Regions from separate parts of the Homo sapiens genome. Here regions 2, 3 and 4 are each reported to be linked to region 1. Evidence: microRNA targets listed by miRTarBase, many of them from high-throughput screens and not tested one by one. Region 1 holds a microRNA gene; each other region holds the end of a gene's coding sequence. Distances are between the middles of the regions.

The links. Region 1 holds the annotated microRNA hsa-miR-6799-5p (GGGGAGGUGUGCAGGGCUGG, at 4,869-4,888, opposite strand). A microRNA usually pairs through its seed, bases 2 to 8, with sites in the 3' UTR of a target mRNA and lowers its output. Matches are read on the target gene's strand: a 7mer-m8 pairs with bases 2 to 8, a 7mer-A1 pairs with bases 2 to 7 and ends in A, and an 8mer does both.
Region 2: miRTarBase lists INAFM1 as a target of hsa-miR-6799-5p. Seed matches in the 3' UTR shown: 7mer-m8 at 1,303-1,309.
Region 3: miRTarBase lists MTA1 as a target of hsa-miR-6799-5p. Seed matches in the 3' UTR shown: 7mer-m8 at 1,124-1,130.
Region 4: the mRNA of PLEKHG3 is a reported target of hsa-miR-6799-5p. Seed matches in the 3' UTR shown: 7mer-A1 at 5,004-5,010, 7mer-A1 at 4,971-4,977, 7mer-A1 at 4,835-4,841, 7mer-A1 at 3,336-3,342, 8mer at 3,166-3,173 and 7mer-m8 at 344-350.

Annotation. Positions count from the first base shown.
Region 1 is chr19:49,789,649-49,796,758 of GRCh38, reverse strand. It overlaps MIR6799 (microRNA 6799), which reads right to left and starts at 4,893; the gene lies at 4,825-4,893. It overlaps AP2A1 (adaptor related protein complex 2 subunit alpha 1), which reads right to left. Exons shown (of 23, transcript NM_130787.3): 5 at 4,695-4,824; 6 at 3,667-3,768; 7 at 1,021-1,129.
Region 2 is chr19:47,274,345-47,281,454 of GRCh38, forward strand. It overlaps INAFM1 (InaF motif containing 1), which reads left to right and starts at 541. Exons shown (of 1, transcript NM_178511.6): 1 at 541-1,379. The coding sequence starts at 576. The coding sequence ends at 1,004. It also overlaps a transcript of CCDC9 not described here. RefSeq lists silencers at 1-102, 463-912 and a cis regulatory region at 4,052-4,189.
Region 3 is chr14:105,469,190-105,476,299 of GRCh38, forward strand. It overlaps MTA1 (metastasis associated 1), which reads left to right. Exons shown (of 21, transcript NM_004689.4): 19 at 278-309; 20 at 652-803; 21 at 876-1,540. The coding sequence ends at 1,026. CRIP2 (cysteine rich protein 2) reads left to right here and starts at 5,632. Exons shown (of 8, transcript NM_001312.4): 1 at 5,632-5,716. The coding sequence starts at 5,674. RefSeq lists enhancers at 1,655-2,518, 4,074-4,606 and silencers at 4,635-4,684, 4,695-4,784, 4,875-5,024, 5,295-5,364, 5,545-5,654.
Region 4 is chr14:64,742,761-64,749,870 of GRCh38, reverse strand. PLEKHG3 (pleckstrin homology and RhoGEF domain containing G3) reads right to left here. Exons shown (of 17, transcript NM_001308147.2): 17 at 1-6,889. The coding sequence ends at 6,168. It overlaps SPTB (spectrin beta, erythrocytic), which reads left to right. Exons shown (of 36, transcript NM_001355436.2): 35 at 175-217; 36 at 398-3,588. The coding sequence ends at 565. Among named protein-coding and RNA genes, the nearest start is that of MIR7855, 39 kb to the left of the region's middle.

The sequences.
Region 1 (7,110 bases):
ACACACATAGAGGGACACAGAGATACCATGAACACTGCCACATATAGACACAGACACGCATACATACAGATGCACACACAATGACACATCCACACACAGGGGATGCACGCAGACATGCATGCACACGGGCAGGTATCGACACACACAGGCGAACGCATGCACGCATGCAGGCATGCACACAGACAGGCATGCACACCCAGAGATTTGGTGGTGTACATCAGCCCTGGCCCCTGGCAGGTGCTGGACATGCTGGCTGAATGGAGGGAACTGGTGCATTAGCACCTACTGTGTGCCAAGCCCCTCAGCACAGGGTCCGAAGAAACTGCTCCATGAGGTCAGTCAGCCAAGGCGACAGAAGCTCGGGGGAGCTCAGTGGCAGAGGGAGGGGTTTAGAGCAGAGAGTCTGGGGGCCAACTGCCACTTACTGCCTAGAATGGTGATGTCTCACCTCCAAGCCTCAGTTTCCCTGTGTGCATATCACACTGGCTGTTCCTCCTTGCCAGCTCTGTTCGGCAGGTGCAGGTGCCCCCTGCCCAGTGCCTGGCTCACTACAGGAGTTTCATACACACTGGCTATTGTGACTGTGAGCAGTAGGGGAAGGTTCCCAACAGATGTGAAAACCCCTGACAGGGCTATGGTAATTCAGGTAGCACGGCCTGGAATCACCCACTGACCGGGTGAGTGACGCTGGGCCAGGAGCTCCCTCTCCAAGCCTCAGATTCCTCATCTATAAAACAGGCACAGTTAACAGTCCCTCGCAACAGGGCTGGAGTGAGAGCCCGGGTAGCAGGGACCTCAGCTATGAGGCTGATCCACGATGCTGCACAGGGTAGGCGCTGGGCCTCGGGCTGCCTGCTTGCCTCCCCGAGTGCAGCCACGTAAGGGGACAGAGGAACCGCCCCAGCTTCAGAGAAATCCTGACCCAGACCCTCCAGTCCCACCTGGTGCGCCGTGGAGCAGGAGGCCCCCAGATGCCAGCAGCAGGCCACCCCGGGTTGGGGAGTGCACGGCGTTCATTACCTGGAGGCGGGTAGCACTGCAGCAGCCGCAGGAGCTTCACCGAGAGCCAGGGTGCTGGGACGAAGTAGTAGGTGTAGTCCTGGAGGTCGGTGGAGGCAGAGGAGACGATCTGGCGGGGAAGAGCAAGAAATAAGTTGGGGGCTGGGGTGGGAGGGGCACGTGGGTCCACATGCCAGGGTGGAGCAAATGGTGCCTTCCAAGGGCAGTGCTGTCAGTGTTAATGGTTTTGTTAGTGGGTTTTTTTTGTAGAGACAGGGTCTCACTATGTTGCCCAGGCTGGTCTCGAACTCATGGCCTCAAGCAATTCTCCCACCTCAGTCCCGCAATGTCCTGGGGTTACAGGCATGAGCCACCATGCCCGACCAATGCAATGGTTTTATGAAGCAGGAATCTGAGGCTCTGGGAAGGGAGCGAGGAAGCGTCAGGCACACTGAATGGGGGCAAAACTAGGACTAAGCCCGGCTGGTTGATCTTTCCAAGTAATGCTGGTGTGTGGTGGGCAGGAAAGGTCTCTGCTGGTTCCCTTCTGTGTGACAGTTTCCCAGGGCCCCCTCCTCACTCGGCTCTGAGCCTCCCATGCCCCAGGCTTCCTCCGTCAGAGCACACAGCGCACCGGCTCCTGGAGGCTGTTTCCTGTAGTCCCCCTACAAGGCTTGAAGCCACTCAGGGGCAGGGATTGGGTCTGACCCTTTTTTGGGTCCCTAGGCCTAATACAAGGTCAGATAGGAAGAGGTTCGGGGAAGAGGCAGGGAATTAGTGAAAGATTGAAAGATCATGGCCAGGTGCAGTGGCTCACGCCTGTAATCCCAGCACTTTGGGAGGCCAAGGTGGGTGGATCACCTGAGATCAGGAGTTCAAGACAAGCCTGACCAACATGGTGAAACCCCATCTCTACTAAAAATACAAAAATTAGCTGGGCGTGGTGGCACATGCCTGTGATCCATGCTACTTGGGAGGCTGAGGCAGGAGAATTGCTTGAACCCGGGAGGCAGAGGTTGCAGTGAGCCAAGATCACGCCATTGCACTCCAGCCTGGGCAATAAGAGCGAAACTCCATCTCAAAAAAAAAGAAAGATCATGTGACTTTTTTTCCTCATTGCAAACTCCTATTCAACCTTGAAAAGCCCTTCTCCAGGAAGCTCTGTCCCACCTCCGTGCTGGTCTGTGTTCCTACCTCACTGTCATCCTGGCACACTGCAGTACTCAGATGTGTGATGAATGAATGAAACAATGACTGAGGCTGAGTGCAGTGGCTCACACCTGTAATCCCAGCACTTTCGGAGGCTGAGGCGGGAGGATCACTTGAAGCCAGGAGTTTGAGACCAGTGTGGGCGACAAAGCAAGACCGATCTCTACAAAAAATACAAAAATTAGCCAGGCACCTGCAGTCCCAGCTACTCGGGAGGCTGAGGCGAGAGATCGCTTGAGCCTAGGAGCCAGAGGCTGCAGTGAACCATGGCTGCACTACTGCACTCCAGCCTGGGCGACAGCAAGACCCTGTCTCAAAAAAAAAAAAAACCTGAGAAAGAAACAATGAGTGGGCCAGGCGCAGTGGCTCACGCCGGTAATCCCAGCACTTTAGGAGGCCGAGGCGGGTGGATCACGAGGTCAGGAGATCGAGATCATCCTGGCTAACACGGTGAAACCCTGTCTCTACTAAAAATACAAAAAATTAGCCGGGCATAGTGGCAGGCGCCTGTAGTCCCAGCTACTCGGGAGGCTAAGGCTGGAGAATGGCGTGAACCTGGGAGCTTGCAGTGAGCCGAGATCGCGCCACTGCACTCCAGCCTGGGGACAGAACGAGACTCCGTCTCAAAAAAAAAAAAAAAAAAAAAAAAAAAGAAACAATGAGTGGATGCACGAGCTGGTGTGTTCTTCTCTTTGCCTGCGAATCCAGGCCTCTTCCTGACTGCCCAGGAGATGCGCATGTGTATTCTAAGTCTCAATTCTGGGATCGCCGCCCCCAGGAAGCCTTCGTGGACTCACAGGCTGTGTTAAGTGCCTCCTATGGGTGACCTATCCTACCTCCATTATAGCACGAGTCACCCCTTTTCTGACAATCTGTGACTGAGTCACCTCCCTGCCAGAAGGACAGGGAGCTCCTTAAGAGCAGAGCTTGGTTCTGACTCATCTGTGTCCCTGGTGTCACCCGACATGGAGCCTGGCATGCACAAGGCCTCAGGGGATGTTCCTGGGCAGGACAGGAGCAAAGGTGGGAGAGGGACGCCAGGCAGGAGTGAGAGGCTGCACAGGAAAGAGAGAGGCGGGAGGCAAAGCCAGAAGAGGGAAAGTGGGAGACAGAGAGAGAAGTGGGAGAGGGAGGAGGTCATGAGGGCGGCTGGCTCCCGGGGTGCTCGGCCCGCGAGGCCCTGTTCTGAGCACTCTATCCACAGCGCTCTGTGCCTCCAGGTGGGCACCGGTATTATCCCCACTGAACACAGGGGGCAGCTGAGGCCAGGGAGGTGAAGCCACTTGTCCAGGGCCACCCAGCCAGGAAGAGGCCGAGCCAGGATGAATCCAGCTCAGAGCCTGAGTTTGTAAACCTTGGGCTGGGCTGCCTCTCAGGGAGAGTGGGGGCCTGAGGGGTGTCAGAGGGCATAGGGATGCCAGGGCCACCTCCAGCAGCCAATATCTAGGCCACACCCACCCGGCTCAGGCGCGACACAGCCAGAGAGACGCACGTCTTGAAGTCATCTGGGTTCTTCTTGCAGAGACAGGTGATGAGGCTGACGGCGGCCGTGACCACACCCTGCAGGGGCAGAGGAGAGACAAGTCAGGCCCCTGGGGGAGGTGGTACCTGAGAGCAGAGGCTCAGGAGCGGGACAGGGTCGGGATGTGTGTGCAGTCGGGAAGATGGGGTTTAGGGGTGTGCACATGTGTCACTGTGCGTGCTTTAGGGGTGGGGTGAGGAGGCCACGGGGCCTCGGGCGCCATGGCCAGCACTGACCTGGGTGTGTGGGGTGTCCCTGGCAGGACCCCAGGCAGCTGGGTAAGGAGCAGTGAAGGGGCGAGACTCTAGAGGGTTGGGACTGTGGGGGTGGGACAGTCAAGGTTTCTGCGCTGGTGCGCAGGTGATGGGCGCTGTTGGGGGAATCTCCAGGTATTAGAAACAGAGTGGGATTTTCTAAGGGACTGGGTGGTTGGTGAGGGGTGTGGGGGTCACTGGACAGGATCCCTGGCCAGCCAGGGGAGTGTCAGAGATGGGGATGGGAGGGTTTCTGGACACTTGGGCAGGTAATGAGTACCGGGGACACTGGATCATGGTTTCTGGTGTCTGGTGAACGTCAGCGCCGAGGGGGAAGCTCCAGGAATCCAGGGGGATCAGGGCTGAGGTGGGAGCCCCAGGCATCCAGGGGGCGTGAGGGCTGAGGTGGGAGCCCTGGGTATCCGGGGGCGTGAGGGCTGAGGTGGGAGCCCTGGGTATCCGGGGGCGTGAGGGCTGAGGTGGGAGCCCTGGGCATCCAGGGGGCGTGAGGGCTGAGGTGGGAGCCCTGGGTATCCGGGGGCGTGAGGGCTGAGGTGGGAGCCCCGGGCATCCAGGGGGTGCGTGGGCTGAGGTGGGAGCCCTGGGTATCCGGGGGTGTGAGGGCTGAGGTGGGAGCCCCGGGCATCCAGGGGGGTCAGGGCTGAGGTGGGAGCCCTGGGTATCCGGGGGTGTGAGGGCTGGGGGCTCACCATGTGCTGGTCATTGAGCAGGTGTACCACACGCGCCGTCCACTCGCCCATGGGCACCAGGTCAGGCGAGGCCTTGTACAGTCGAAGGAGGCACAGGGCCGCACTCTGCTTGACACTGTCCATGCTGTCCCTGTGGGGACACCATGCAGGGCAGGGGAAGCAGAGTCAGTGACCCCAGCCCTGCACACCTCCCCTCCTCTCCTGTTCCTCCCAGGAAGGGTGTGCGAGGCCAGCGAGAGGGACAGACAGCCAGGCGGCCGCAGGATCCAGTCTGGCGCTGACCTCACGGCCCACCAGGACTCAGTGTCTTCATCTGCAAAATGATTGCATCTCAGTAACCTCACAGGGCTCAGGAACATGTCAAGCCTGGCTCTGCACCTTCATTCATTCACCAAGCACCTACTGGGTGCCCATGGGGTACCAGGCACTGCTGTTCACTCCATGGATAGAGTGGTGAATAAAGTGGTCCAAACACTTGTCCTCACAGGGCTTACATTTCAGACAGCACCACGAAAACACATACATCAAATACTGTCAGGGCTGGGCATGGTGGCTCACGCCTATAATCCCAGCACTTTGGGAGGTCGAGGTGGGAGGATCACTTGAGGCCATGAATTCAAGACCAGCCTGGGCGACAGTGAGACCCAGTCTCTTCAAAAATACAAAAATTAGCTGGGTGTGGTGGCGCAGGCTTGTAATCCCAGCTACTCGGGAGGGTGAGGTGGGAGGATTGCTCGAGACTGGGAGGTCGAGGCGGCAGTGCACCATGACTGTGCCACTGCACTCCCTCTAGCTTGGGCAACAGAGTTAGAGCTGTCTCTAAATAAATAAAAAAATTTAAAAATAAACAAAACAGAGTAACTTAAGGAGGAAAGACTGAAAATCCTCTGCAACAGAACATCCCAGGCAGAGGGAACAGCCTGTGCCAAGGCCATCAGGAAGGCGGAGCCCGTGTGTAGGAGGAGCAGCAAGGAGGCCTGCAGGCTGCGGCCTGAGCCATGGGGCAGGAGGGCTGCAGATAGGACAGGGAGGGAACAGAGAGCCAGACCCTGCAGGGCCTTGTTGGCTGAAGTGAGGACTTGGCTTTTTACCGATTGGGAGATGAAAGCCGCTGTGGGTGGTGAGCAGAGAATCAGCGTGATGTTAACACGACAGCAGGAACAGCTGCCCCCGGACCCCTTCGGCCTGTCCAGCACTCCCACAGGTCTCTGGGTGGATTCACACGTTTATCTTCTCTCCACAACAAACTGAGAAAATGGGTGTATTTTTGATCTGGCTTAGGTTTTTAAAGGGTCCCTCTGCCTGTTGTGAGGGAACAGACTTTGCAAGGCTCTTTTGAATCCAAGGGAATATATTCACAGGTTCTGGGGGTTAGGGTGGCTCACGCCTGTAATCCCAGCACTTTAGGAGGCTGAGGTGGGAGAATCACTTGAGCCCAAGAGTTGGAGACCAGCCTGGGCAACATGGTGAGACCCCCATCTCTACTAGAAATATGAGAATTAGCCAAGCGTGGTGGCGCATGCCTGTAGACCCACCTACTTGGCAGGCTGAGGTGGGAGGATCGCTTTAGCCTGGGAGGTGAAGGCTGCAGCCTGGGTGGCAGAGCAAGACCCTGTCTCCAAACAAAAAAAAGGGTGGGGGTACTTTGCAGATATGATAAAGTTAAGGATCATGAGATGGAGAGAGGATCCTGGGTGATCCAGGTGGACCCAATGTCATCACAGGGTCCTTATAAGGGAAAGATACAGTTCAGAGTCAGAGATGATGTGAGGATGGAACAGAGGTCAGGCAGGAGAGAAGATGCCACACTGCTGCCTTTGGGGATGGGGGAAGGGGCCACGAGCCAAGGAAAGCAGGTGGCCTCTAGGAGCTGGAGAAGGCAAGGACGCGGCCTCTCCTCTAGGGCCCCCGGAAGGGACGAGCCCTGCCCACGCCTTGATTTTAGCCCCGTGAGATGGATGTTGGACTTCCGACATCCAGAACCGGTGTTTGACACCGCTGTGCTGGTGGTAATTCATCACAGCAGTCACAGGAAACCAGGGTCAGCACTTGCCTGGCACAGAACCTGGCAGCCAGCGGGCAGCCCATCTCAGAGGGCTGACTCCAGGCCCCAACCATAACCCAGCTCCTAGCACAGCAAAGAGCATGGAGCATGATGTTGTTCTAGAAGAGGATCCCAGGGGAGCACCTTCTGGGGTCAGACACGCCTGCATGAGGTTGTGACTGTGGGGCACAGATGGGGGTAAGCCACTGACCCTCTCTGATGGGCTGTTTCCCCTTCAGGAAAATGAGGAGCCTTGTCGGCTTTGGGGAGAAAGAAATAAGATGGTGGGCCAGGCATGGTGGCTTACACCTGTAATCCCAACACTTTGGGAGGCTGAGGCAGGCGGATCACTTGAGGCCAGGTGTTTGAGAC
Region 2 (7,110 bases), 2.5 Mb from region 1:
GCCATGGGCATGGGGCGGGGCCGTCAGCGGGGGCGTGGTCGGGGTGTCGCGCGGGAACCCGCGCGGGAGGAGAGCGGGGATTCCGGAACTAGAGTGTGGGAGCCAGAGGCCGTAGCGGGCAGGGCTCGAGCACTGGAGTAGAGCAGTCCGACAGGTAGAGAAGTGAGACTGGCTGCGGCACAGGGCGGGTTAGGGCTCCAGGCAGGGCTTGAGCGGGACGAGGGGGCGGGCTCCGAGGCGGGCTAGATGCCTGGGCTGGATGAAGTCCGAGTCTGGGAAGAGAACCGTGTTGTGGCGGGAGGAGGCGGTGATTGGGGTGGTGGGGCTAAGCGCGGGGGCGGGGCTGGAGCGAGGGGGGCGGGGTAGCACCTCCGCCTGTCGGTGGTGGGGCGGAGGCTGGAGGGGGTGGGCCTAGGATGCGGAGGCGGCAGCTCGCGTGGGGGCGTGACCATGCTGGCGGGGGCGGGGCCGGAGGCGGGCGGTTTAGAGAGCGGGGCGGTCTGCGGGGTGGGGGCGGGGCCTGGTGGGGGCGGGGCCTGTGCGGTCTGCGGCGCGGAGCCGAGTGGGCTGCGGGGATGCGGGGGACCAGCTGCGTGGGCGGCGGCGCCGAGAGCCCCGGAGGCGCGGGGCTGAGCGAGGGCCCGCGGGGGCGCTGGCTGCGCTTGGCTCCGGTATGCGCCTACTTCCTCTGCGTCTCGCTAGCTGCCGTGCTGCTCGCCGTGTACTACGGTCTCATCTGGGTACCCACGCGGTCTCCCGCGGCACCCGCCGGCCCACAGCCCAGCGCGCCGTCCCCTCCGTGTGCTGCCCGCCCGGGCGTGCCGCCTGTCCCGGCGCCCGCCGCTGCCTCCCTCTCCTGCCTCCTGGGAGTCCCCGGCGGGCCGCGACCCCAGCTCCAGCTGCCGCTGAGCCGCCGCCGCCGCTACAGCGACCCTGACCGCCGTCCGAGCCGCCAGACACCCAGAGAGACGCCAGAGGCCGCGGAGGGGCGAAGACCCGGGTAACTCTCCCTTCCACCCCAACCCGGATCGCCAGCCCTCGAGAGCTCTGTGCTCCACGCCGAGGATGCACCGTCTCTGGATTGGTCCGGCCTTCTTCCTAATGACATCGCTCAGCGTCTCTGGAGCCGTCATCCCGCGGAATGGGGGCCCAGGGGGTGTCAGCTCGGGGCCTTGCCTCTTGCAGCTACTCTGTGGTCAGGCCGGGTCCTCCACCATCAGGAAGATCCCATCCTGAGCTCTGTCTCCTGCCCCTCCTGCTGTGGGATGCTGAGCACAGAGCCCACAGCCCATCTGCCTCTTCACCTCCCTGAATCCGTGTCCATCTGCAATAAACGACAGCCTCGGCTGCCTCGTGCTGTGTCTGTCCTGTTGTCTGCAGAGATGCCTCCCCTCCCAAGTTTGTGTGGGAAAGACCTTCCTGGGGTGTGGCCTTTGTCTGTTTTGTCCCGGGTGGGCTGTTCCCCTTCCTTAAGGAGCTCTTCTTTTCTTGGAGTAGGGAGAAGCAGCTTAGCAGCAGCAGGGCCTTTGAAGGTCAGACAGTGGGAAGGGCTTCCCAGTTTTTTGTGTGCTTGGAGCAAAGGACAAATGTCTCTGGGGAGAAGCAGAGTGTCTGCCCTCGTGTTACAGCACAGGAGACAAGAGGAGGGGTGGGGTGATATAGGACAATAGCTGGGGTTCTGGGAATTGCTGTTGGTGTAATTATCATGTCAGGGACAGAGGCTGAATCACCCAGGGATCTCAGTTGGCTGCCGAGAGGGAACGATGCTGGCCCACTTCCTGGGGTCAGAGAGATGAGAGTGGATGGCGGCGGCGGTGGTGTTGCTTCTCAGCCTGTCTGGAAATCTCAGAGCCAATGACCAAAGCGCTGTGCTGCCTTGGAAGACTGGTGCAGCCTCTGGCCTGGGGCGCTGCTAGGAAACCAAGGCCGGGAAACTGAGGTCTAGCTTCTGGGCAAGGAGTCCGAGGTGGGGAGGCCATGTTCCATCCTGGAAGACTGAGGCCTGGCTCTGGACAGGGCCTGGGATCTGACATGCAGGAAGCTGGTTCCTGTCCAGCCTCCCCGCTTGAGCTGGAGGCCTTCCCAGGAGAGTGAGGCTGAGCATCTTCTCCCACGCTGTGGCTCCTGGAGATCTGTGGAGGTGGTTAGGAAGGTCAGCTGCTCTGCTCACCTCCCCTTTACCCCACCACCACTCCCCAGAGGGTGGTTGTGAAGGGGAATCTAGGAAGCCAGCACTTCTTTGTAGTCAGCATAGGTGATAGTTAGGGGCACTGACTGGGGCGAGACTACTCGGGTTCAAATTCCAGCTCCTCTCATTACAAACTGTGTGACTTTGGGCAGGTCACTTGACCTCTGTGTTTCTTTTTTTTTTTTTTTGAGATGGAGTCTTGCACTGTTGCCCAGGCTGGAGTGCAGTGGCATGATCTTGCTCACTGCAACCTCCGCCTTCTGGTTCAGGTGAGTCTCCTGCCTCAACCTCCTGAGTAGCTGGGATTACAGGTGCCCACCACCACACCCAGCTAATTTTTTTTTTGTATTTTTATTTTTTATTATTTTTATTTTGAGAGAAGTCTCACTCTTGTCCCCCACGCTTGAGTGCAATGGCTCGATCTCTGCTCACTGCAACCTCCACCTCCCAGGTTCAAACAATTCTCCTGTCTCTGCCTCTCAAGTAGCTGGGATTAAGGCCCCTGCCACCACGCCTGGCTAATTTTTGTATTTTTTAGTAGAGACGCGGTTTCACCATGTTGGCCAGGCTGGTCTCGAACTCCTGACCTCGTGATTTGCCCACTTGGGCCTCCCAAAATTCTGGGATTACAGGCATGAGCCACCACACCCGGCCTCTGTTTCTTTTTTTTTTTTTTCTTTTGAGACGGAGTCTTGCTCTGTCGCTCAGGCTGGAGTGCAGTGGTGCAATGTCGGCTCACTGCAAGCTCCGCCTCCTGGGTTCATGCCATTCTCCTGCTTCAGCCTCCTGAGTAGCTGGGATTACAGGCGCCCGCCACCACGCCTGGCTAATTTTTGTATTTTTAGTAGAGACGAGGTTTCATCATGTTGGTCAGGCTGGTCTCAAATTCCTGACCTAAGGTGATTTGCCCACTTTGGCCTCCCAAAGTGCTGGGATTACAGGCGTGAGCCACTGCACCCAGCCTTATAACTTATTTAAAATTTTTAAGCATTTTTTGTTTGTTTGTTTAATAGAAATGGGGTTTCACACTATGTTAGCCAGGCTGGTCTTGAACTCCTGGGCTTAAGTGATTTTCCTACCTTGGCTTCCCAAAGCCCTGGAATTATAGGCATGAGCCACTGTGCCTGGCCCTGCCTCTGTGGTTCTGTAGAATGAAGATGCTAATGGTACTTCTTCATAGACTTGCTCTGAGGAATAAATAAACTGGTGATCTCAAGCCCTGAGAACGATGTCACATGTTCTCTCTCTCCACCACCTCTGTCCCTCAGGGTTTAAAAGCCCCAGCTGGGATCCTCTGGGGATAGCAAGTCAGTCCAAAGCCCTGGCCACCAGCAAATGGTGAGTTTGAGGGAGGGGCCTCTCCATTTCGGTTCCCACTGGCCCCCCTCTCTTTGGTTTTCATCTCTCTTCTCCCAGCCCCATTTTTTCCTACTCTTTCGTTTCCTTGTTGCTGTGTGTCCTGGCTCTTTTCTCTTTCTGTGTTTGTCTCTCTGCGTCTCAGTCTTTCTGTGTCCTGTTTATCTCTCTGGTGTCTCTTGGTATTGTTTCTCTCTCCCACTCTGTATGTCTCTGACTCATTCTGCTCATTCTGTGTCCTCCCTATTGCTCTCTGTCCCCAGCTCGTTCTTTTTTTTTTTTTTTTTTTTTTAGATGGAGTCTTGCTCTATTACCCAGGCTGGAGTGCAGTGGCGGTGGGATTACAGGCGCCCACCACCATGCCCGTATAATTTTTGTATTTTTAATAGAGAGAGGGTTTCACCAGAGTGGCCAGGCTAGTCTTGAACTCCTGACCTCAAGTGAGCTTCCCGCCTCGGCCTCCCAAAGTGCTGGGATTACAGGCGTGAGACACTGTGCCCAGCCCCAGCTGATTCTCTTTCTTCTCTCCTCCACACTTATCTTACCCCAACACTTTCTTCCACCTTGCTCCCCTTCCCCTGCCCCCGCACCCCACAGCTTCCAGGTCCCTAGTCTCAGTGTCCCCTGTCTCCTTCCCTTTATCTCTTCCTTTTCTCCTCCTATTTCTCTTGGTTTCTCTTTTGGTCTCCATTGTTTAATCTTCCTTTTAACAAATATTTTTTGAGGCTGGGCACAGTGGTTCTTGCTTGTAATCTCAGCACTTTGGGAGGCCAAAGCCAGAGGATCACTTGAGGCCAGAAGTTAGAGACCAGTCTGTGTAACACAGCAAGACTTCATCTGGACAAAAAATTAAAAAATTAGCTGGGTGTGGTGGTGCATGCCTGTAGTCCCAACTACTCAGGAGGCTGAGAGGAGAGGATTGCTTGAGTCCAGGAGGTCGAGGCTGCAGTGAGCTATGATTGCACTACTTCACTCCAGCCTGGGAAACAGCAAGATCCTGTCTCTAAAAAACTAAAAAAACAACCCACCCAAAACCCACAATTATTTTTTGAGCATCTGCTGTGTGCCAAAGCTTATTTTAAACACTGGAGACACAGGAGTGAATAAAACAGGCAAAAATTCCTGCTCTCGGCTGGGCGTGATGGCTCATGCCTGTAACCCCAGCACTTTGGGAGGCCAAAGCAGGAGGATCACTTGAGGTCATGAGTTTGCGACCATCCTGAACAACATAGTGAGATCCTGTCTCTACAAAAAATACAAAAATTAGCCGGGCATGGTGGTGCATGCCTTGTAGTCCCAGCTACTCGGGAGGCTGAGGTGAGAGGATTGCTTGGAGGTCAAGGTTGCAGTGAGCTGTGACTGTACCACCGCACTCCAGCCTGGGCAAGAGAGCAAGACCCTGTCTCAAAAAAAAAAAAATTCCTGCTCTCAATGGAACTGAATATTAGTGGGAACACAGACAAGAAATTCAGTTAATAGCCGGGTGCGGTGGCTCATGCCTGTAATCCCAGCACTTTGAGAGACCTAGGAGGGCGGATCACCTGAAGTCAGGAGTTCCAGACCAGCCTGGCCAACATGGTGAAACCCCGTCTCTACTAAAAATACAAAAATTAGTTGGGCGTGGTGGTGGGTGCCTGTAATCACATCTACTTGGGAGGCTGAGGCAGGAGAATTGCTTGAATCCAGGATGGGGAAGTTGCAGTGAGCCAAGGTTGCACCACTACATTCCAGCCTGGGTGACAGAGTGAGACTCTGTCTCAAAGAAAAAAAAAAAAAATTCCTGTTCTTAATGGAACTAAATATTAGCGGGGACAAAGACAAGAAATGTGATTCATAACTTTGAGTGAAAGCAGGGTAAGGGTGATGGGGATGATGGAGGGTGTGGTTACTGGGTAGAAGCCCAAGACTGGTGAGGGTGAGGCTGGCAGGTCTCTGGGGGCTGAGGGAACAGTAAGTGCAAAAACCTTCGGGGTGGTGTGCCTGGCTTGTTGAAGGAATAGCGAAGAGGCCAGAGTGGCTGAAGCAAGAGGGAGTGGGGAGAGCAAGAGGAGGAGGTGAGGCAAGAGAGGACAGGCAGCTTGATCAGGGCCTCATGGACCACAGAATGCAATTTTTTTTTTTTTTTTGAGACAGTCTTACTCTGTCACCTAGGCTGGAGTGCAGTGGCGCGATCTCGGCTCACTGCAACCTTCATCTCCCTGGTTCAAGTGATTCTCTCGAGTCTCAGCCTCCTGAGTAGTTGGGATTTCAGGCACGTGCCACCACACCCAGGTAATTTTTGTATTTTTAGTAGAGACAGGGTTTCGCCATGTTGCTAAAGCTGGTCTCAAACTCCTAACCTCAAGTGATCCACCCGCCTCAGCCTCCCAGAGTGCGGGGATTGCAGGCGTGAGCCACTGTGCCCGGCCACAATGTGCACTTTGGATGAGGTGGGAGCCATGGGAGGCTTCTGAGGTGAGGAGGGTGTGCGCTGATTCAGATCTCAAGACCTTCTGACTGCGATGTGGAGAATGGACTGCAGGGGGCGATGGTGGAAGCCAGGAGCCCAATGAGGACACCACCGCCCTGGTTCAGGTGAGAGACCATGGTGGCTGTGCTAGAGTGTTGGCTGGGGAGGAGGGGAGAAGTGGTCAAAAATCCGTGTGTGGGCTGGGTGCAGAGGCTCACACCTGCGATCACCTCCCAGCACCCTGGGAGGCCAAGGCAGGAATATCACTTGGGCCCAGGCGTTCAAGCCCAACCTGGGCAACATAGTGAGACCCCGTCTCTACAAAATAAAAATAAACTTTTTTTTTTAAAATGAAAAAAGTAAAAGCAAGGCATGGTGGCTCATACCTGCAATCCCAGCATTTTGGGAGGCTGAGGCTGGAGAAATGTTTGAGCTCAGGAGTTCAAGACTAGCCTGGGCAACATAGCGAGACCCCATCTGTACACTAAATAAAAAATCAGCCAGGCGTGATGGCTTGTGCCTGTAGTCCCAGCTATTCTGGAGGCTGAGGCAGGAGGATTGCTTGAGTTAAGGAGTTGAGGCTGCAGTGAGCTGTGATTGTATCACTGCACTCCAGTCTGGGTGACAGAGTGAGACCTTGTCTCAAAAAAAAAAAAGTGTGTGTGTTGTGTGTGTATACTGATAAAAATACACATAGCATAAAGGTTACCATTTTAATCATCTTACCATCTTTTTTTTTTTTTTTGAGACAGAGTCTTGCTCTGCCACCCAGGCTGGAGTGCAGTGGGGCGATCTCTGCTCACTGCAACCTCCACCTCCCAGGTTCAAGTGATTCTCCTGCCTCAGCCTCCTAAGTAGCTGGGATTACAGGTATGTGCCACCATGCCCGGTTAATTTTTGTATTTTTAGTAGAGACGAGGCTTCACCATATTGGCCAGGCTGGTCTCAAACTCCTGACCTCAGGTGATCCACTGCCTCGGCCTCCCAAAGTGCTGGGATTACAGGCATGAGCCACTGTGCCTGGCCCATTTTAACTGCTTTAAAGTGCACAGTTTCGTGGCACTAAGTACATTTACAGTGTTGTGCAACCATCACCACCATTCATCTTTAAAATGTT
Region 3 (7,110 bases), not on the chromosome of region 1:
GCAGGGAGGTGACTGTCGGGTCCAAGGCTCCTGGCCTCCTGCCTGGAGCCCAAGCCAATGTGTCTCTTGCTGGCCAGAGAGCTGTGGGGCCACCAGGCGGCCCAGGACCCGGGGATGCGAGGCCCCACGTCCCCCAGGCCCATCCTGGGTGTGGGCTGTGGCTTGGTTGGCAGATGGCCCCGGCCCATTGTCCCAAGGTGGCTGAGGCCGTGGTGGGCGGTGGGAGTGCAGGACGCGCTCTCTCGGGGCCTCATTTCTCTCCTCCATTTCTCATCAGGTCTGGCAAACCACGGACAGGCCAGGCACATGGTAAGAGGAACAACCCATGATGGGGTACGGTGCGCTCACCCATGAGCTCTCTGGGGTGTTGGGAAGAGGCCTGGCCAGCCCTGCCAGGTGCCACGTGGAAGCTTCCAGGAGGCCTGGCAAGACCAGAGGGGCTGCAGCATGTGGGGGCCATGGCCCCTGTGCCAGGCCCAGCGGTGTGCGGCCGACCAGCCCTCAGGGCTGCCCTGGGCCAGGCTGGGGGTCCGTGTAACTCACTGGGGTGGTGGGGGGTTGGCCAGGCACAGCACCTCCCAGCGGGAGCCCTGCAGGTTGAGGTGGAGCTGGCCCTTGGCTGGCTGCCCAGGAAGTGCACCCCCTCTGCAGGGACCAAGCCGGAACCTCCTGCTCAACGGGAAGTCCTACCCCACCAAAGTGCGCCTGATCCGGGGGGGCTCCCTGCCCCCAGTCAAGCGGCGGCGGATGAACTGGATCGACGCCCCGGATGACGTGTTCTACATGGCCACAGAGGAGACCAGGTGGGGCCTTCCCAGGGCAGGCGGGAGGGCTCCGCACAGCGTCCCGGCCCTCACCACCACCTCTGCCCACAGGAAGATCCGCAAGCTGCTCTCATCCTCGGAAACCAAGCGTGCTGCCCGCCGGCCCTACAAGCCCATCGCCCTGCGCCAGAGCCAGGCCCTGCCGCCGCGGCCACCGCCACCTGCGCCCGTCAACGACGAGCCCATCGTCATCGAGGACTAGGGGCCGCCCCCACCTGCGGCCGCCCCCCGCCCCTCGCCCGCCCACACGGCCCCTTCCCAGCCAGCCCGCCGCCCGCCCCTCAGTTTGGTAGTGCCCCACCTCCCGCCCTCACCTGCAGAGAAACGCGCTCCTTGGCGGACACTGGGGGAGGAGAGGAAGAAGCGCGGCTAACTTATTCCGAGAATGCCGAGGAGTTGTCGTTTTTAGCTTTGTGTTTACTTTTTGGCTGGAGCGGAGATGAGGGGCCACCCCGTGCCCCTGTGCTGCGGGGCCTTTTGCCCGGAGGCCGGGCCCTAAGGTTTTGTTGTGTTCTGTTGAAGGTGCCATTTTAAATTTTATTTTTATTACTTTTTTTGTAGATGAACTTGAGCTCTGTAACTTACACCTGGAATGTTAGGATCGTGCGGCCGCGGCCGGCCGAGCTGCCTGGCGGGGTTGGCCCTTGTCTTTTCAAGTAATTTTCATATTAAACAAAAACAAAGAAAAAAAATCTTATAAAAAGGAAAAAAACCAACCGGTCCTTCCCTGTGTCTTTTGTTCCCAGTCCCTCTCCCTGACTCAGGCCCTGGGCCCCCCACCCCCATCGGGCGGCCCTAGGCTGTGGCTCTGCCGTGGAGCTGGAGGCCCCTGGAGGCCACCTCAGCCAGGACAGCCACCCCAGCCTCTGGGCTCTGTTGCTCTCCCACCTGCCCACAGACCTTCCCCTGCTGGGGCCTGGCGCGGTGCCCTCTGCCCTCCCCAGGGGGCAGCAAGCGGTTGCAGGGCCCAACCCCCTTCCCCAGCAGAGCTGTGCTGAAACCGTCTGTGCGTCTGTGTCTGCGGCAGCGGTGGGCCGGGGACTGCCTCCCGGCAGGCAGAGCTGGCCCTGCCGAAGACCCTGTGGCTTCCCACCAGGGCAGCCAGTGCAGCTGGGCCAGCGAGGCCTTGGAGTGCTCCAGCCAGAGGCCCAACCTCCTGGCCATGTAGAGCCTGGCCCCAGCCGCCTGAGGGTTTCTGCCCAGAGCTCTGGCCCCCAAGCAGGTGTGCAGTCTCCACAGTGAGAATCTGCTTAGATTTCTGCAAGCACATTCTCAGAAATCCTGCTTGGCCCATCCTCCGGCCGGGGACAGGACTTGCAGGCCGGGGGACAGGTACAGGCCGGGCCACCAGAAGGAGGGGTCCGGTGGATAGCCTGGCTCCAGACCACCCCCCTGGCCGTGCTACCTCAGCCGGCCAGGAGGGGTCCGCCCAGGCCTCGCTCAGGGAGAGTAGCTCCTCTGTCTCTCCCCAGAGCTGTGCCTTTGCTCCCCCAGCCCACCCAGGCGCCCTGTCATGTGGAAATCTCAGCCACGGAATTAAAATAGAAACCACTTCTGCTGTCTCCCAGGAGACAAAGATAAGGGGGCGTCCTGGCCTCCGTGGGAGCCTGTGCTGGGGCCCAGCAGTGACAGGACTAGGTGTCAGGGACTCGGCTGCAGTGCACGTCCCACCCACCCTCCCTGGGCTGTGGCGCCCCCCCACCCAACCCCAGCCCCCACCAGCCAACTCTAATCTGCAGCCAGCATCCGAGTGACCCCACAGCCTGAGGACTTGCCTGTAGTGCGTCATCAGACGGCTGGGAAATCAGGCCCCTGACCTCATGAAGGACACAGCTCCCTCTGAGGCCTTTTCCAACCCTGGGGGTCTGGAGCTCAGTGAAGACCCCAGCTCCCTTGTCTCCCTTCCCCAGGCCTCGGGCTTGCCTCCCAGTGCTGGCTGCAGGGTTCTGGCCTCAGCAGCTCTTCCACCCCCCAGGGCCTGTCCTTTTCTGGAGTCAACATGTGGGCTGTGAGGTGTCCTAGGTCCTGGGCTCTATCCCAAGGGCAGGGAGGCCCTGAGGAGATGTGGGGCCCTTTCCCACCCCAGACACCCTCCCCGGCCAGACACCCAGGCTGCAGTGCCCTCACAGGGCCAAGCTCTGGCCACCGGTGCTGGGTGGGGCCTGGGCTGCTTGTGGGTCTAAACCTGGGCTTAGAAGTGAGTGGGTACCGGCTGGGGGGAGCATTGGCCTTGGTGCCCAGGCCATGAAGGGGTCTCCCAGCTTTGCTATGTCCTCGTTAGGCCCTTCCCTGCTGATGAGACAGCAGCCTGCTTTCTGCACCAGCAACCCCACAGGGGCCGCGGCTCCCCAGGGCCAGGGGCATCTCAGGGTGGCAAGGCCATCATGCTGTCATGCCTGGAGACCTGTCCTGCCAGCTCCGCTCCACCCTGCTAGGGTCCTCTGTCCACCACTCAGCCCAGCCTGGCTTCCCTGCAGTGGAGCTGAGTAGCAGGGGCCTGCTATCTGCCAGTGTCACAGGATGGCGGAAGGGACCAGACCACTGCAGCCCAGGGGTGTGACCCAGCCCCATGCCCAGCCATCAGCCCTGCCAGCTCCCTTCACACCCGCCGTGTCCTGTGCCCCCCTCTCCACTCGGGCCCGTCCCACTGTGTCACTGCCCCTGCCTGTGACCCACCGCAGCCTCAGAGGTGGAGACCAAGGCCACTGCTCTGCACCCATTGATCCTGACCCCTGCCTGCCAGGCCCAGAATAGCCCCGTCGCATTAGGGAGCTTCTGGCCGCTGCCCAGGGACTGCGGCTGGGGTGAGGGCAGTGCAGCAGCTGGCACACTCCTTGTCCCACCCCACCCTCCGTGTGTCTCCAGGGCACCTGGCCAGTGCCGAATGCCATTCCTTTGCTGCCACCCTGGGAGGGGCCTGCCTCTACCCCCATCCACTCTTCTGGCAGGGCTGGGGACCTTGGGGCAGGTGGTCTCCCTCCAGAAGAGCCCTGTGTTCAGCCAGCCCTGTCCTCCAGAGCAAGCCCCACAGGTAGCAAGCCCCACAGGTAGCAAAGTCAGGGAGGGTAATGGCTTAGCCCCAGGCTCCCAAGCTGGGCAGAACAGGGCAGGGAGCTGGAGAGGGTTTGGCAGTGGGCCCATGAATCCAGCCTGGGCAAGGCCCTGCTGTGAGGGACCCCTAGGGACCCCTGGGCCTGCCAGGGAGGAAGGGCTGCCCAGAAAAGGTACTGACTGATGCCTCCTCACCATCTTCTGCCTTGGCTGGCACAGGTCCCAAGTGCAGAGGGGGAGCTGGTCAGGCTGGTCAGTCGGGCGGGGGGGCGGGGGGCATGTTTCTGGCCTGCTGTCACCATGGAAATGGCAGTGGCTGCAGGGTGTGTGTGCAAGGGAGGAGGGTGCTGCCACAGAGAGCCCAGCCAGGACCACCATGAAAGCCAGGAGCACCGAGGGCCTCTGGTTGGCTCACAAACATGCCTGGTGCACCAGGCAGAGGGAACAGGTAGGTCTCCGTGTCCAGCCCACAGCCTCCAAGACACAGGGGGAAGGGTGTCCAGAGTCAGCTGCCCCCATAGGGCCTGATCACTGGGCTTCTGGGATCTGCCTGTCTCCCAGGCCGACGCTCAGCTGGGGCCAGAAGGCTCAGAGAAGGGCCCATGGGGACAGAGCACCAGGAAGCCCGTGGGTGCGGAGGTTCCCCACCTGGGGCCAGGCTCTACGGGGCTCTAGGGCGGAGGCACTGTGGTGAGGCGTGGTCAGGCACGCCCTGGTTGGGAGGAGGCCAGAGTGGGGGTGTGGGGGTGCGGTGACTGGCATGACCCCTCAATCTCCCGCCTGACCCCTCGAGGTCAGGCCCTGGGCCCCCAGGCACGCAGCTGGTCCTGGGCGGTGCGGGAGAAGGGACTGGAGTGTCAGCCCCAGCCCGGGGCACAGAGGGCACGCCCACTCCTTCCCCTCCTTCCCTTCCTAACTCCTCACCGCCTCCCCGGCCGCCCCCTGGGTGGAAGTGCTTGGGGTGGACGCCTTAAGCGCGGATCCCTCGGCGCTGGTGCCCGCCGCCCCTTCCCTGCCTGGGAGGCAGACGCAGACCTCCCCACACCCCCTACCAGCAGCTTCTCGAGCTGTTTCTGGAGGTGGCGGCGCCTTCCTTCCTGAGCCCTGCCCTCCACCCAAGGAGCCTTCAGCACCACAGACAGTGTTGGGGCGGGGCGCGGGCGGGGGCGGAGCGGGACATGGAGACCCGGACAGGGCTGGGGGCCGTGCCCGCCGGGAATCTGACTCCGCTCCCGCGGCGCGGCTGTTGCTATGGAAACCGAGCAACAAAGGGAAGCGGGACAGGCGCCGCGCGCGGCGGGGTGGGGGTGGGGTTCTCCCGGAGCCTGCGACCCCTTCCCGCGGCGGAGCGCAGCCTGGGCGCCCAGGGCCGGGAGTGTTGGACCCCTAGGCCCAAGTCACTAGGGCTCCCCGAGAGCCGAGGGCCAGGCTCCCCGCACCCTGCCCGCCGCCCCGGGGACGGCCCGGCCAGGCGGCCCCGACGTCGCCATGGAAACAGCCGGGGCGCGGGCGGCGCCGCGGTCGCCCGGGCGGGCCCCTGTAGACGCCACCTCCGGCGCGAGGGGCCCGGGGGCGCCAGGCCTGGCCCGGCTGCCCCGCACCCGCCACCCCCGGCAGGTGCGCCCCGCCCCCGCGGCGCCCCCAGGCGGCCCCCAGCCCGGGGGACGGGTTATCGAGGCCCCGCCCCGGCCGCGGAGCCAATGGGCGCGCGGACAGCCGGGCAGGCGGGGCTGGGCGCGGGCGGCGGCGGCCCGGAGGAGAACGGGCGGAGGGCGCGGGCCGACCGGGCGCACCGACCATGGCCTCCAAATGCCCCAAGTGCGACAAGACCGTGTACTTCGGTGAGTGCGTGCCCGCTCCCGGCCCGCTCGGTGCATCCCGCCGCCCTTCGCGGCCAGTCCCGCGCCGCAGAGCCGCGGCGTAACTCGGGGTGCGCCCGGCCCCGGCCCCGGACCGAGGATGCGCGTCCCGGAGGCTGGCTGGCCGCGCTGCCCAAGCGGCTAAAGCCAAAGGGTGGGGCTGCGCGAAAGCGGGGGCGGTCACGCCCGAACCCCGAAGCGGCTTGTGGGGGCGGGGCAGGGACCACCCGGGCGGGGCTTGTGGTGCCCCGGGATGAGGCCAGTGTTTGGGGGAGCGCTCGGGGATCCGCGGACGCATCCCGGTTCCTCGGACGGCGCCGGGCGGGGCGGGGCAGGGCGTGGCTGTACGCCCCGGGTGCGTCCCGCGCGCTCCCGTGGGCCTGGGCCCTTTCTCCTGGACCCCCTACACCCGCTTCCCCCGGGAACAAGTGGCCGGGAACAGTGACCCCCAGCTCCCACTCCGGGCTCCGCTGAGCTGGGCTGGGCCAGGTTTGGACTCTGTCGGGATTCAGTCCAAGCGGGGGCGACCTTGGCCTCTGCCTCCTGCTTGTCCCGACGCATTCCCTTGGCGCCAGTTCCCCCAGGAGTTTCACACGGGGGTAGGGTGGGGGCGGGTGTGACACGCGAGTTCCCGCGAACGTGAGAGGGACCTTGTGCTCAAGCAGCCCAGGTGTCCAGGATCCCTGCCTCCTCAAGGTCAGAACAGCCCTGGACAGGATGCAGGTGGTGGCGGGAAGAGGGATGTCTCGCAAGGCGGCCCTCGGTCTAGCCCCTCCGGCAGGCGCGCTCCCCCCGTCTGGGCTTACTCACTCTCTGGGCCTGGGTGCGCCCTTCCTACCCCCTTCCTCCTGGCTGATTCGCTGCCCAGCTTTCTCCAGGGTGGTAAGGTCCCTGCCCACCTACCCACCAGCTGCTGCACGAAGGGGGGCAGACTTAGTGAAGCAGAGAGGAGGGCCGGGACCAACAGGGCGCCTGCCCTGGTCGCCCCATACCCAGAATGCGGCCAGGCTGCAGGGAAGGCCGCCACTGGGCTTCCCCGGCTCACAGGCTGGAGGGGGTTGAGGGGAGGTTGTATTTTGCCCGTCCCAGAGGGGAGGGACCGGATTTGGCCTGGAGTGCTTCTGGCGTGGCTGGGAGCCGAGGGGCTTCCGGCTGCCTCTCCTGGAGCCCGCTCAGCCCTCAGTCTCTGTCCCAGCGAGGGCTGTCTCTGTAAGGCTTAGGGTGGGAGACGGTCCCCAGGGCCCTTCTGCAGTCCAACTGCCCATGACTTTACCCCAGGCCGGGCCAGGCCAGCCTGGGGCTCTCCAGGGTCTCGGCCAACAGTCCTGTGGACAGCCCGGAAAGGCCTGCCTGCCTGGCCCGCCCAGCCTCTCAGC
Region 4 (7,110 bases), not on the chromosome of region 1:
GGGTTTTTCAAATCAAAGAGGCTGATGGTCCAGACTTTGACCTCTCAGAAAGTGCTGGGCTGCCTGAGAGGGGTCTGGATGTTCGGCTCAGGGTATTGTGGGATCAGAGCCAGCCCTCTGCCCAGCGCCCCCTCCAGAGGTGTCTCCATGACAGGAAACCCTTTGTCCTCCTAGGCTGAGTAATGGCAGCGAGTGGCTCTTCCATGGCAAGGATGAGGTAAGCGCGGGCAGCCTAGCCCAGACCTGGCTAAGAAGGGGGTAGGTGGAGGACCCCAGGCCGCTTGCCCTGGAGGCCCCCTCAGAAGGGGCAGTCCCAAGAGCCCCCACCATTGTTGCCTGGCCCGGGAGGTGGGGGGCTGTGGGCCTCCAGACTCCACCGTGACCCTCCGCCCCGCAGGAGGAGATGCTGTCCTGGCTGCAGGGCGTGAGCACCGCCATCAACGAGTCCCAGAGCATCCGCGTCAAGGCGCAGAGCCTGCCCCTGCCTTCCCTCTCCGGCCCCGACGCCAGCCTCGGCAAGAAAGACAAGGAGAAGAGATTCAGCTTCTTCCCCAAAAAGAAGTAGCAGGTGGGGCTGGCGGGCGCGGCGGAGTCGGGACGCGCAGAGACCGGGCAGCCCAGGCCTTGGCCTCCTCTCGCCGCCGCCCGCCGGTCGAATCGAGATGAGTCGAGTCGCGGGCCGGGCCCCCGGGCCCCACGCTGCACTGCAAAAGCTGCCTTCGCCCGCGTGTCCTGGGCCGACGCCCCCTCCATGCCCTCGCCCGCGCTGGCTCCGCTCCAGGGACAGGGGCTCCCAGCTCCTCTGGCGCCTTTGGGGCCTCCAGGCCTGGGGGCAGGAAACGGTTCTCTGAGGCACACGCCCTCCTCTCCCACCCTCCTCCTGAGCCGAGGGGGCACAGGCCCCTTACCCCCAACCAAAAAAAAAAAAAAAAAAGAGCTGGAGAAGGCTGATGGGGTTCTTCAAACGCTGCCCGTTCCTAAAGCAAGTCTTGCTTCGGGTCACCTCCCACCTGGTGGCAGCCAGGGAAAGGGGAAAGGAAGAAGACACTGGAAATGCATGGCCAGCCCCCTAGGGGCATGAGGAAGGAGCCTTCAGGTGGCCCACAAAGCCCTAGCTCTGGGCCAGGGGCTCTGGGGGGCTGAGGGGACCAGACTGGGTGCAGGGCCTTGGGAGCTGCCAGCCTCCTTCCCACTGGGCTTCCGCAGAACTGGGACTCTCACTTCAGGGGCCACCACATCCCTCCTCTCTGCTTCTCCCCCCAGATCAAAGGGTACCCTCCCACGGTTGGCAGGGCCTGGCTGAGTGCCTCTAGCACCCTTTGTGCCACCACAGGCGGTCCCAGGAAGGGCAGCAAGGTCAGACCATTCCTCATTGAAAACCGTGGCTAGGGCACAGGGCTCTGATCTGAAGGAGTGACAGGTGCGTCACAACACTGCCTAAGGCTCTCCCTCTCAATGCTGGGACCCTCGCCCCACTCCCAGTGGCAGCCAAACCAGCAATATCCAACAGACATAGGCCCCCTACGGGACAGTGTGGGCCCCCAGATATAAGATGGATACCCCCCGCACCTGCAGTAAAGCATCCCAAAGCCAAATGCTCAATTGCATCCTGTCTGCAGCTGGGACTTTGGAGGGTAATGGCTGGGCAGACAGTAAAGTTGATCATCTGTTTTCTCGGGGTGGCAGACGCAGCCATGTCTTGGTATCACCACCCATGTGACAGCTACTCCTGCACAACTGGGACAAATGTCAGGGCCAGAGCCATGAAGGTGTGGTACCCCTTGATCAGCTTCTCCACGTCCTGGCCCCAGGTCTTGGCGGGGAGGGGGTCACATGAGTACAGAGGTCAAATATCTACCACCCTCCAGCCCTGAGCACCAGAAGCTCTGCAACCAACGTCCCCAGGAATGGCCTTCCCCTTGCTGCTCAGGTCATACTTCTGGAGGAAGAGAAAGCTCATTCCATATTTTCCCCACCACTCTACTCCGAAAGCAACACAGTTCTGGCCCAGTATCAAACTAGGGTTAGGTCCAAGAGAGCAGTCAAGCGGGTCGGGGGTGGGGGGGAGGGCGGAGGGCAGCAGGCATTTTCCCCCAAGGAAACCATGAAAGTCCCCAGGGCCTGCAGTCAAGTTTCTATCACCTTCCCCGTGAGAAGGACCTTAGTTCCATGGAGATGAAGTGGGTGAGGTTCAGGTAGAAGCCACAGGGGCAGGCATCCAGAATGAGGCCCCCTGAGGAACCCTGAGTGCTGACCAGTGCCGGCAGAAATCAGTTCCACCCTGTGGCCCTGACACTATATGTCAGGGTGACACCAACTGCAGCAGGCAGGAGCCACAGGAAGGAAGACGTCATCCGATGGAGCCTGACATCCCCAGGTTCCCGCCCTGGTGAGCAAGGTCTTCATTTGGCTTTGGTACATATGACCCTATACAGGGAACCTAGTGTGTATCACTCACCAGCCTCTTTCTGTATCTGGGGAAACCAAGGCAGTGAGGTGACTGCACTCACCTAGCAATAAAGTAGGCCTTTGGTGCACTTGCAGGCATGTCCTCCTCTGGGGCAGAGAGCAGGTTCCTTGCTGAAGGGCAGATGGTGGCAAACATCTCCCTCAACTGTTTCCCTGGGCCAGTCTTTAGGGAGCCTAGGGACAAGGGCCCACCCTCCCCCTTCCACGTGTGCCAAATCAGCACCTGAAGTGAGGCATTTCCAGCAAGCAACTCCACAGACCCGAGAAAGGAAGGGCTCTAGTGGAAGAGCTAGCATCTCACCACCCCAGGTCCCCTGGCCTGGTCCAGGGCAGCCAGCTGCATGTGACCATTCTGTTGCCAGCTCCCCACACATCCCTCCTGTCACCCAGGCTCCAAGACATTCGACCAACTAGACTGAAAATGCAGGCATCCAGCTTTGGGAGACCCTGTGTGTGCCACACCAGGGCTAAGCTCTCCCAGTGCCCTAGCAAGGTCTTTTTTTTTTTTTCTCTCCTTATTCTACTCTACAGTCTTTTGACAGTATTCCCAAACGAGGTTGACACAGCTCCAGTCCACACCAGCATACCAGGCTTCCTTCCCAGGGCAGTTTAGAGGAAGCTCCTTCTGGGCAAGGTCAGGCGGTCCTCCTTCCCTCTCTCCTTCCCCTTTGTCCCAGCCTCAACTGACTCTGGCTGTGGGAGGTGTGGAGGGTCCTTAGGCTTCCCTCCCCAACCTGGCCTCCACCAACACCCCTAACAGGAGGCCCGTGGAAGGCTCAGCCTCTCCTCCGCATCCCTCCTCCTTCCTGCCTATCGGAGGGAGCCAGGGTCCCCTAGGCTGACCCTGAATCCTCTTCCTCCCTTCATGGGAGGGGGGCAGGAATCCAGAGGAGGATGAAGCCAGCGGGACCACATGGCTTGGTGGCTTGGACAAACAAGCTCAGGGAGGAAATGAGGAGGCGGCGGCTGCAGAGGAATGCAACCCTGTTGGGCACAGACCATGCAATCTGGGGCTGGCCCTGGGGCCAGCTGGGTCCTGTCCTCCACCTGCTCAACCGTGCTTCCACCAACCAGAGGAAACCCATTTACTAGTTTTTCTAATAAATCAATAATGCTCCATGTTTCTCTCAGTTTCTTATTTAACTAGCCTCCTCTCCCTTTGAACTGAGCCTAAGAGGGCTGGCACCATGGAGACAGAGGGACAGCCAGATTCTCTAGCTTGTCCCTGGGAGCCTTATGGGACGACTGCAAGCACCCGGTTCCTGGGCTTCATCACAAACTCCAAGAAAAGCTTGCTCATTCATGCATTTGATCAACTTGAAGGCCTACTGTAGGGCAAAATCATTTCCAAGCAGTGATCAGTCCAGGCCCCTCCCCACAGAGCTCAGGACAGATCTCAGCACTCACTGGACCGCAGAATCATCAGAATCTCTAAGCCTGGGATTCACCTCCAGAGGGCAGTTTCTGTTGGTCTAGGGAGATGGAATGTAAGCACTGCGTTTCCAGAAGGCTCCCCAGATAATTCCAATGGGCAGCCAGTGAGAACCACCGACCTGGTGCAAGGTTCCCAGGCATACCTAGATGGCCGTGTAAGGACTGCCTGGGGAAGGGGTTAACTACAACTTCCTGGGCCCCACCCTCTGAAGAGCCCCAGTCGGGTTCTTCAAGGGAAGATCAGAGGCTAGTGACAACCTCTCTTGAGCAGAAGCAGCGCAGGGCAGAGATAGCCCCTGGTCTGGCAGCTGCCCTGAATCTTCTGTGGTCATTCCACAGTCACTGGCTCCTGCCAGGCCAGTCTCAAGATATGATGCTGAGTAACCACAAGGGCACTGGACAGTGTGAGGGTCAGGGAGGCGGAGGTTGCAGTGAGCCAAGATTGCACCACTGCGCTCCAGCCTGGGCGACAGAGCAAGACTCCGTTTCAAGTGGGGGATAAAAAAGAATCTGGGTCCCTCTGATCTTCCCTTGACCTTGTTAGACTTAGCAGACCCATCTTCAGGTTGGGTCAGAAGGCCCACAGGGCCCTGACCCAGCAGCCCTGCTGAACACTTGTCAGGCAGCTCTACCACCCAGGCCCTGAAGCCTCTACCTCCCAGGCCCCAGCTAGAAAAAAAATTAAGCAAAATGAGTCTGGACCTCTGTGGAGAAAGGGCAGAAAACCCAACTGAAATAGGGAGGCATTCCTAACTCTTCTGAATCAAAGATACTTCTGAGAATGTGATAAAAAGGGAGGAATCATCCCAGAAAAATGCACTTGTACTCCTCATCCAATGTTGCAGACACCTTTAGGACATTTCTAGTCTCCGAGTTTAGAATCCTTACCTTCAGCCGCATGCAGTGGCTCACCCCTGTAATCCCAGCACTTTGGGAGGCCGAGGTGGGTGGATCACCTGAGGTCAGAAGTTCGAGACCAGCCTGGTCAACACGGCGAAACCCCGTCTCTACTAAAAATACAAAAAATTAGCTGGGTGTGGTGGCTCATGCCTGTAGTCCCAGCGACCTGGGAGGCTGAGACAACGAGAATTGCTTGAACCTGGGAGGCGGAGGTTGCAGTAAGCCAAGATCACGCCATTGCACTCCAGCCTGGGTGACAGAATAAGACTCTGTCTCAAAAAAAAAAAAAAAAAAAATCCTTGTCTTCTAGGATGTTTCCTGGGGACCGGAGAGAAACGCAAAAGGCACCAGATACTGGGAGCATCTGCTTATGAGAAAAACAGTCTATCCACCTCACCACCTCCCTTTTTCTTGGTCCAACTCTGGCCCTTGGGGAAAAGAGCAAAAGGCTGGCATGCGGGACCCCCTACCCTAGACAGGACAGCAGGCTGCTGCTAGACAGAGAAGCCCATGGGAGTCTAGGCAGCAGAAAGAAAAAGCCCGCCCTCACATCCTCCTGCCCCACCTCCCCCACCAGTACCCGGGTGCCTTATGTTTCATAAGCCCAAGTGACAATTGAGTGTGGAAGGAACAACCTCCATGTCTCCATCTCCCTAAGACATCCCTGGCCCATGAATAACCTTCCCTACCCCAGCCAAGCCTAGGAAGGAGTTCACACATAGTGGGTTGGTCAGCAGTGGTTATTGCACCATTGGCAAATAATGAAATGTGTGTACATCAGCGACAACCACAGGGTCAGCACAACAACCCTCAAAAGTACCTGAACTGAATCCACTTCATTCTTGACAGGAGGGGAATAAACAGGGGCCACACACTCACGCACACGCACATCATACCACAGAATGGAAAGCAATAAATTATTGGCTTCATTCCTGCCTGGACCCTAAGAAAAGGCACCGTTACAGAACAAAGCCTCTCCAGGCCACTGCCTGAGTCTCCTGGGGATGGGCTCCTCCATCTGGCTGTGGCCATGGCCAGCCAACGCTGGAGGCCTGAGCAGAGCTTCCTCTCTCTGGGAAGAAGTGAGCTTAAATATTTGGCTTCTTACCAGAGAACAACTATTTACAAGGGAAGCAGCCACACCGGCCTCACAGGTGAGTGGGAAATTGTCTCGAGCCCCAGTGGATGGCACAGGCAGGAGACCCCTGCACACGGGAGCATCCTTCCTGAAGGGCGGAGGGGATGGACTTTCCGCCCACCTGAGGGCCCTGGGCAGGGGCTCCATGAGCCCAGGCTTGAGGGGAAGGATGCCCAGGTTCTTCCCCAACCTCCAACATGACTCCTCCCTCCCCCAGGAGTCAGCATCAACCGACAGAGTTCAAGGCCTGGAACTTCTCTCTAAGGTTTCTCACTCTGCCCTGCTGGCTCGGGTCTGCCGGGTCCCTGGAACCCTCTTCCTTCGGCTGGCACTCTGCAGACTGCTGGAAGTCCTGAACCTGCCCCAGCAGGGCCACCGGTGAGCTTGGTCCCTGGCCACTGCTCTCCTCCAGCCCTGCAGTGGGGCTGGGAAGGGGTCCCTTCTCCATGACAATCACCCGCCGGTTGTCCTCCAGGGTGAGGTCTGCAGTGACATACAGGGTCTCGCCTCCATCCGGCTTGCTCTGGGGCAGAGGCCCAGGGGATTGGGCAGCCTCTCCGCCTCCCCGGCCCCTCTTGGTGCTCAGGCTGCGGCAGCGGCCCACCCTGCCCGACAGAGGTGGCTCTACCATGTTCTCCGGCACCGAGTGGCTCCTGTTGACGGGTGGGCCGCGGGGCCGGCCGCCCCCTGCTCGGCGTGCCTCATCGCGGGAGGCATACTTGGAGCAGAGCTCACGGACGTCGGGCCAGCTGAAGGTCTCTGTGGGGCTGAGGGGGCTCCGGGCGGAGGGCCGGCCCCCAGGCGAGGTGGTCCTCTGGCTGACAGCAGACGGGTTGAAGAAGAAACGCTGTGGTGACATCTCCCCAGCCGAGGAGGGCTTGGGAGGGCTGTGCTCCTGGGCCATCAGCTGCTCATAGTCAAATAGAGACAGCACCGGCTTCCTCTTACCTATGAGGAGAGAGCAAGCTGCCTGAAGCATGGGGCGGGAGGGCAGAGCTGCAAGGGGGTGCTCTGAGCAGGCCCCAACTCACTTTCCAGGCAAGGCTGGTTGTTGGGGTTTTGGGTGTGATGGGAGAAATCTCACTTACCATCCACAGCCTCTTTCATGAAGGGCCATAGGAAGAATGAAGAAAAGGCAGTGGAAAGGGGTCAGGAGTCAAAGGCAGAGG